Linked DNA regions of Homo sapiens. The protein of the gene in region 2 interacts with the protein of the main gene of each other region in a pairwise test. Each region holds a gene or a part of one and is shown on either strand. Other genes may lie near its edges.

Region 1 (3,912 bases), on a different chromosome or scaffold from region 2:
CTTTGGGAGGCTGAGGCAGGCGGATCACCTGAAGTCAGGAGTTCAAGACCAGCAGGGCCAACACGGTGAAACCCTGTCTCTACTAAAACTACAAAAAGTAGCGGGTTGTGGTGGCGCGCACCTGTAATCCCAGCTACTCGAGGTAATCCCAGCTATTCGAGAGGCTGAGGCAGGAGAATTACTTGAACCCAGGAGGTGGAGATTGCAGTGAGTCGAGATGGTGCCACTGCACTCCAGCCTGTGTGACAGAGTGAGACTCCGTCTCAAAAAAGAAAGAAATAAAAGTACTGCATAATGTCATTAATAATAAATAATACCTATTGGTGTCCCTTACGACAGAGACTCGAGTAGTGGTGAGGTAGTGTTGTGTCAGAGACTCGAGTAGTGGTGAGGTAGTGTTGTGTCAGTCTGGCTACTTTACTGATGGTGTCCATGTTTCTGAGTGTCATCAGGGAGATGGCAGCGACGAGGGAGATGGCCCATTTCCTGTTCCTGCTACAGTAGAGCAGGGGCTCTTTGGACAGTGTCTATGCTGGCCCTCTGGGGAGGACAAGATTTCCTGCTCAGCACCGTCTGGGTCTCAGAGAAAAAGGCTCAGCCACCAAGTGTGTCCTAGGCGGTGGGGAAGATAAAGGTTTGGCATCCTGGGTGGAAGAAACACCCAAAGGAAGAGAACGTTTTAGATTCTGGAGCCTGGGCAGCACAAATAAAGGCTCTGACTGGCTCTGGTTTGGGAAATCTGCGTCTTAAAGACCTTTCCTCCATTACAAATATTCTCCCCATTCAACAACCAGTTTGGAAATTCCCCCCCATTCTGCTGTTCAGGGAGCACTGCTACGCACACACCCAACACTTATGGACGTACCTGCGCACCAATAATACACGCGCATCACACATTACCTGCCGAGAACACGCAGAAACACAACACACAGACCCCAGTACACCTGGACCGGAGGCAGGAGGCTGTTCCACATCCACGCATCTCCTAAAATACACACGAGGACTAGGGAAGGTGAGGACTGGCGGCGTGAGCCCGGCCCTGCACTCAGACACGTGAGCCAAGCAACACTCGGCGCGCATCTGTGATCCGGGTTAAGTGCGCACCTTGGACAGGCGCCATCCCCAGGACCCGCTTGCCCGAACGCACTCCTAGGCAGACGGCAGATTACCGCCCGAGCGCGGCGCACCCAAAGCCCCACATCCAAAGGAAAAGGCACCGAGGGCTAGTGAGCGAGGAGAGGGGAGATGAGCGGCGCTGCCTTGGAAGGGCACTCGGGAACTAGCGAGAACCACAGTGGGAGTGGGGGCAAGCCCGTCCCCTGCCCTGTCCCAGGAGCCTTACTGATCCTGGTGCTGCGGCTGGTGGCTGTGTGGCGTCTCTCTGCCCTGCGCCGCGGCCTCACTGAGGTGGTGCCGGACGCCCCCGCCAAGGAGGGGGCTCCGGCTCGGGTGACCCCAGCCTCCTCGCCCGCAGTGACTGCCAGCCCGGCTCAGGGCCTTCTGCAGAGCCTTCATGGAGCGCATGCCCCAGCAAGCCTCCGGCTCTGCAGGTGCGCCCGGGACCTCTAGCTGTGGCTGGGAAGGAGGGGCGGAGCGAGCGAGACAAGGTGCGGGGGAGTTCTGTGAGGGAGCGCTGGACCTGGAAGACGGAGAATGTGGGCCCGGTGGGTGGGGCTGGGGCTGGGGCAGGAGAAGGGGCCTGCCCCTTTAAAGCTGGCTCCAGGGTTAGGGGCACCCTCAGGACAGGGGCTAGGTGAGGAGCGTTGGGGATGAAGGAGAACCCGGGTGGCTTTCTAGTGGGTGGAGAGAGGGCGGTGCCTGGGAGCTGGAATGGACAATGCCCAGGTCCAATCACTGAGGAAGCAAAAACATTGAGGCGGGGAAAGGGTAAGGTTGCCCAATGAGAGCAAGACGGTGGGACCTTGCGACAGTCTGCGGATGCTTCCGCGTGGGCCCGGCGAGCGCGGGTATCCGCGGATGCTGAGGGCGGGAAAGGCGAGGACAAGCTGAGGCGAAGCCGGTGGGGGCGGGAGGCGCTCCCCGGGAACACCGTGGGGCTGCGAATGATGGAGTTGTCGTGTAGAGAGGAGGGTGCTGCCTCGAGAGAGGAGGCTAAGTAAGAGTGAGCCCAGTTCAGGAGGTCACTCAGAGAGCCTCGACCTCCGAAGGCCAAACCAGCGCCCAGTAACCCGGCGGGTAGCGTGGCGCGCGGCCGACGTGCGGTGGTGCTGAGTGGAGAGTAGGATGACTGCTGGGTACCCCGGGCAGAAGCAGCCGACCAGCACCTCAGGGAGGCATTGGGCGGCGGGAAGGTCGCTCTGGCGGTTAGGAAGCCTGGGTTCCAGTTTGTGTCCCTCTACCATTTATTTGGTGTAGGACTTGTTTTCAAATCTGGAAAGTTAAGACATTAAAATAAGTTGGCACGCAGAAAAACGTTTTATAAACCATGAAGTGCTCCCCACATTTTTCCTATTTTAATTGTTTGCCCTTGTCCTCCTCACGGGCAGAAAAGAGGCGATATACAAAAAGCATTTTGAAATCCAAGAACATTCAGGACTTTTGCCATTTGCAGCTAGAACTTTCACCTTGTATCTCGGCAGCGCCTAACCCAGCATCCATATTTAGTAGGGACTCATTATGTAAATGATAGCTATTATTGAGTGCCCATGGTGTTCCAACCGCTTAGTTTCTCTCTCCCTCTTACCAGAGACCTACAAAGTAGTTATTAGTCTCAATTTGAAGGTGAGGAAACTAAGACTAGGAAATTAAGAATTCTCGCATAAGGTAACCCAGCTAGTAAGTACCAGAACCAGAAATTAGACCCGTTTTTTTTTTTTAACTACAAGTCTCTCCTTCATGCAGCCCTTCTCAAAAATTAAGCATTGAATTGAATTATCCCGGGAGAAATGACCCCATCCCTAAAGGAGGTATTTTATGTGGAAGTATTATGATACAGTACTGGGAGTCTTTTCCTTGTGATAGTTCTGGCTGTATCACAAAATACTAGTTTTTGTTTGTTTGTTTTTGAGACGAAGTTTTGCTCTTGTTGCCCTAGCTGGAGTGCAATGGCGCAATCTCGACTCACTGCAACCTCCGCCTCCTGGGTTCATGCGATTCTCCTGCCTCAGCCTCCCTAGTAGCTGGGATTACAGGCGCCTGCTACCTCGCCCAGCTAATTTTTTGTATTTAGTAAAGATGTGGTTTCGCCATATCGGTCAGGCTGGTCTCAAACTCCTGACCTCAGATGATCCGCCCGCCTCAGCCTCCCACAAGTGCTGGGATTACAGGCATGAGCCACCGTGCTTGTCCCATAGTTTTCATTTTTGGATTAAAATGAGTTTCAAGGGTACTCGTGGGAAAACAAGTACTGAAACCAGTCAGGTGTGTTCTGTGGAAAGGCAGTTCTCCTTTGCCTTGGTTAGGGTTGGAGGGCTTATTTGGCTTAAAACCAGATGGAGTGACATTTGTTTTTGCTTGTTTTCGCCTTCTGTAGTCATTCTGTGTCTGCTGTATCTGTTCTCCTGTCCGTGGAAAGCCGTCTAATTCTGGGAGGGCTTGCTGCTTTATGCTTGGCTTTGCCCAAGAGGCAGAGTTCTGGGTCTCAATACTTAACGTAAACTCAATCCTGCATTAGTTTTTTTCATACGTAACAGACGAATCTTATCCTTGTTTCATAGAAATATGATTTATCTGAAACGTTTTGATCTATTCAAGAGAAAAATACCATCTGTTAGGGAATTTCTAAACATTACCCAGAAGTAATTTGCTTCCTTTTTTTCCTATTTCTGCCTCTTTGAATTAGCTTTATACTCTAATGAGTTCCTTACTCTCTTTCTCCCAGCACTCTTCCACTAATAGGAACTGGTTGGGTAGTGAAGAAGATCTATGCATGGAAGCAGAGGTTCTTTGCTT
Region 2 (3,912 bases):
CTGCAAGAAAGAAGGGGTCTGGGAGTCAGGGAATGGCTCCAGTCCTCCCTGCAGGAGAGATGGGGTCCGGGAGTTGGGGTGAGGGCTGGGGACTTAAGGCAAGGGTCCAGTCCCCCAGGCAGAGACTCACTTGAGGGCCATGGGAAGTCATTTAGCCCCTCCACACAAAGCCCATGGAAAGGAAATGTTAATCCTGCCTTTTTCATGCTAATCTGAGTCTACCTCCAGTTTTCCTATTTCCAATCCTTTCCCTACAGGCTTATGGATCTGGCATAGGCAAGAGGTTCTGGTTTCAGGAAAGACTGGCTGTTCTCTTGAGATCTGTAAAGAGAGGATGTGAAAAAGGAAGGTCCTGGAAGGCAGTCAGATGGAGCCCTGTTTCCCGCCTTTCCATGTCCATTCCTCCTGGGGCCCCTGATCTGTCTCTCTGGAGATACTCAAGCTCAGGCAGCCGTTGCCAACTCAGACTGGTCTGACAAACACTTCTTGAACACTGGGCGGGGTGCTAGAGAGACACTGAGGTAGCCACATCGGATCCCTGCCCTCTGGGAGTTCACAGACCCAAACCCGGAACACTGTGAGCCAAAGTGGATGTGGGGCAGGCCCTGGGTGCTGGGTGGACCCACATCTGGTGTGTGTGTGTGTGTGTGTGTGTGTGTTTAGGTTGGGTGTACGATGTGTCAGCAGAGCATGCAGAAGTCCTCGCTGGAGTTTCATAAGGTAAGAGCCCCATGTGATTTCTCCTTTACAGCCAAATAGACCAACCTGAGAAAAGGAGAGGAAGGGGAAACGGGAGGCCAGTAATAGAGATTTCCACCTGACCACTCTTTTCACCCCATTAGGCTTGGAGAGCAGTGGAGAACTAGCCCACCGCATAACACAGGTTCTCCTGTCCCCCAGATACTGATCAGAAGGGTTTTCCATGGTCCATGAGTCCATCAGAGCTCAGATCCCCCGAAGGCAGTCCCGCACTCTGGCCCTTCTCATCTGCTTTCTCGTATTGGCCCTAATTCCCTAGGGAGATGGGCACAAGTCCTTGATCTGCCTACAGTCAAAGAGGCCAGTGATCGGCCAGGCGCAGTGGCACACGCCTGTAATCCCAGCACTTTGGGAGGCCAAGGCGGGTGGATCACGAGGTCAGGAGTTCGAGACCAGCCTGACCAACATGGTGAAACCCCGTCTCTACTAAAAGTACAAAAATTAGCTGGGCGTGGTGGCACACGCCTGTGGTCCCAGCCACTTGGGAGGCTGAGGCAGGAGAATTGCTTGAACCCGGGAGGCGGAGGTTGCAGTGAGCCAAGATCAAGCCACTGCACTCCAGCCTGGGCAACACAATGAGACTCTGTCTCAAAAAAAAAAAAAAAAAAAAAGGGCCAGTGATCATGCCCTTCCTGCTGCCTCCCACAGGCCAATGAGTGCCAGGAGCGCCCTGTTGAGTGTAAGTTCTGCAAACTGGACATGCAGCTCAGCAAGCTGGAGCTCCACGAGTCCTACTGTGGCAGCCGGACAGAGCTCTGCCAAGGCTGTGGCCAGTTCATCATGCACCGCATGCTCGCCCAGCACAGAGATGTCTGTCGCAGTGAACAGGCCCAGCTCGGGAAAGGTAAGCACACAAACTGGGGTGGAAGAGAGACGTTCCAAGGGCCAGAGCCTTTCCTGGATGGGATGCAAGGAAGGGAAGCTCTCAACAGGACGGATGACAAGTGTATTTGCTGTATAGATCTCAATTCATCTGGCTATTCTAATTCTAAACCATGCCTCAGAGTGGCCTTCCTGTGTGTCTGCTGTGGCCTTCAAATGACTGGTCCAGGGAGACTAGGAGGCCGGGGCTAGAGCCTAGCTACCACAAAGTTGAGTAAAGAGGCCATGGAGAAGGCTGGGCGGGGTGGCTAATGCCTGTAATCCCAGCACTTTGGGAGGCTGAGGCGGGCAGATCACCTGAGGTTGGGAGTTCGAGACCACCTTGACCAACATGGAGAAACCCCGTCTCTACTAAAAATACAAAATTAGCCGGGCGTGGTGGCGGACGCCTGTAGTCCCAGCTACTTGGGAGACTGAGGCAGGAGAATCACTTGAACCCGGTAGGCGGAGGTTGCAGTGAGTCGAGATCGTGCCATTGCACTCCAGCCTGGGCAACAAGAGCAAAACTCTGTCTCAAAAAAAAAAGGGGGGGACCATGGGGAGTCCTAGGAAACAGGAGGCTTTCTTTGAGCACCTCTAGCACAGTCCTAGCCTGGCAGAGATCCATTGCATCCTTTTACAGATGAGAAACCTACACACAGAATAAAGCAGGGACTTGCTAGAGGCAAAAATAAGACTGGACTCCCGCACTTCCTGGCACTGAATCTAGGGCTTTTTCCATTATCAACAATGGCCAGAAGGGAGTTAGCAATGGCTCCTGGCCTGGGGGCCTATGTATTGGCTCCCTGGTACCATTTTATGTTCACTTGAATCACTCACCTCTTTATGAGGGTGTATTTACTGTCACACAACCATCAGTGTGACAGATCCTTTGGTGTCTTTGCTAGTTGTTTTGGTAACATGGTAACATGGGAGAGAGCCTAAAACTCCCCAGACAGTAACCTTCTCCTGATAAACAATCCACCCAAGGGCAAAACTGGCCAATGGAAACCTGGAAATTGTGAGAGTCATGTATATTTCCTTCATCCCAGCATGGCTGGACGTCAACAGAATCAAACACAGTCTTCAACACAACTTCAGTGCAACACAACACAACACAACACAACACAGCTTCAACACTGTCAACAAAAATGTGTTCAACCAACACCTGGTCTGATCACAGAGTCTGAAAACTGGTGCAATGAAAGAGCACAGTCAGAATGGAGGGGGTTGGCATCCGTGGCTACAGCTCCATTCATCTCCTTAGAAACCAGTCCTGATCCAGGAAAATGTCTCTCCATTACGGTTGCTGCTGCCCTGAGTGCACATCTGTGGCCATAAAGGAAATGATGTGGGTGATTCGGCCAAGAGTTGCCTGTGTGGTCAAGGATGCCGGCAGCGCAGGAAAGTCAAGACCAGGCAGGTCCGGGGGGCAGTTCGTGCTCATGAGCACAGGCCATGTATGCAGTTGTGGGAGAGCTGGGCTAGCCGTTGACAAGGACAATCATTTGTGGTGTTGTTTCTCTGCTTATTCAGGGGAAAGAATTTCAGCTCCTGAAAGGGAAATCTACTGTCATTATTGCAACCAAATGATTCCAGAAAATAAGTATTTCCACCATATGGTGAGTAGCACTTAGTAATTTTCTAATGGTGCCAATAGTTCATCCACATTCTGAAAAGTGTGATAGGAAAGGCAGATTCTGGGCCCAATTTTACATAGCATGGATATTAAAGGGTCCCATATTTATTTTTTGCTTTGTTCCAAAAGATAGTTTAGTGACTTGCTTAGGCTAATCAAGCACACAAAAATTGGTCTTCATTTGTGCCCAGCCCTTCAAAGGGGCTTCCCTTGCCACTCCCAACACCCCCGATCACCTCTGACCATCTCCAAACTTCATGGCCTGGACATTGCAATTTGGTCCTCAGTAGGGCCTGTCTTACTGTTTTCGGTCCCATGTGGGAGTCTTCTCTATTAGACTGTGAGCTTCCTGCAAAACTGCATGACTTTTTCCATTTTCCTGACATCAGAGCTTGGTGCAAAAAGAGGACTCTGTAGAGGCGCAGTTACGTGATTGACTGACTGACTGATTTTGCCTGGGAACACTCACAGGTTCTTCCCTCCATAGCCCCTAAGCGCCGTTTAGTGCATTGCTGTGCCAAGTTGCTCCCTTCTTTTGCACAGAATGGAGCATTTCCCCTTTGGGAAACTTACCAAGGCTTCTCTCCAAAGAACTCTTCTCCTTCTCCTTGGGCAGAAAGTTGTTTACCTTTCTTAACACTTCAGTGCTTAAA

The links.
Region 1: the proteins of XAF1 (region 2) and GLS2 interact in binary tests that used the Homo sapiens proteins (3 or more experiments, as listed by UniProt).

Annotation. Positions count from the first base shown.
Region 1 is NC_000012.12:56,486,595-56,490,506, forward strand, and holds the start of GLS2 (glutaminase liver isoform, mitochondrial isoform 1 precursor), read right to left. Parts: upstream 1,568-3,912; 5' UTR 1,525-1,567; coding exon 1,343-1,524; intron 1,006-1,342; exon of another isoform or gene 975-1,005; coding exon of another isoform or gene 901-974; intron 739-900; exon of another isoform or gene 393-738; intron 359-392; exon of another isoform or gene 246-358; intron 1-245.
Region 2 is NC_000017.11:6,758,999-6,762,910, forward strand, and holds part of XAF1 (XIAP-associated factor 1), read left to right. Parts: intron 1-257; coding exon of another isoform or gene 258-476; exon of another isoform or gene 477-663; coding exon 664-720; intron 721-1,407; coding exon 1,408-1,603; intron 1,604-2,887; exon of another isoform or gene 2,888-2,909; coding exon of another isoform or gene 2,910-3,043; intron 3,044-3,156; coding exon 3,157-3,242; intron 3,243-3,912. UniProt on the Homo sapiens protein: Seems to function as a negative regulator of members of the IAP (inhibitor of apoptosis protein) family. Inhibits anti-caspase activity of BIRC4. Induces cleavage and inactivation of BIRC4 independent of caspase activation.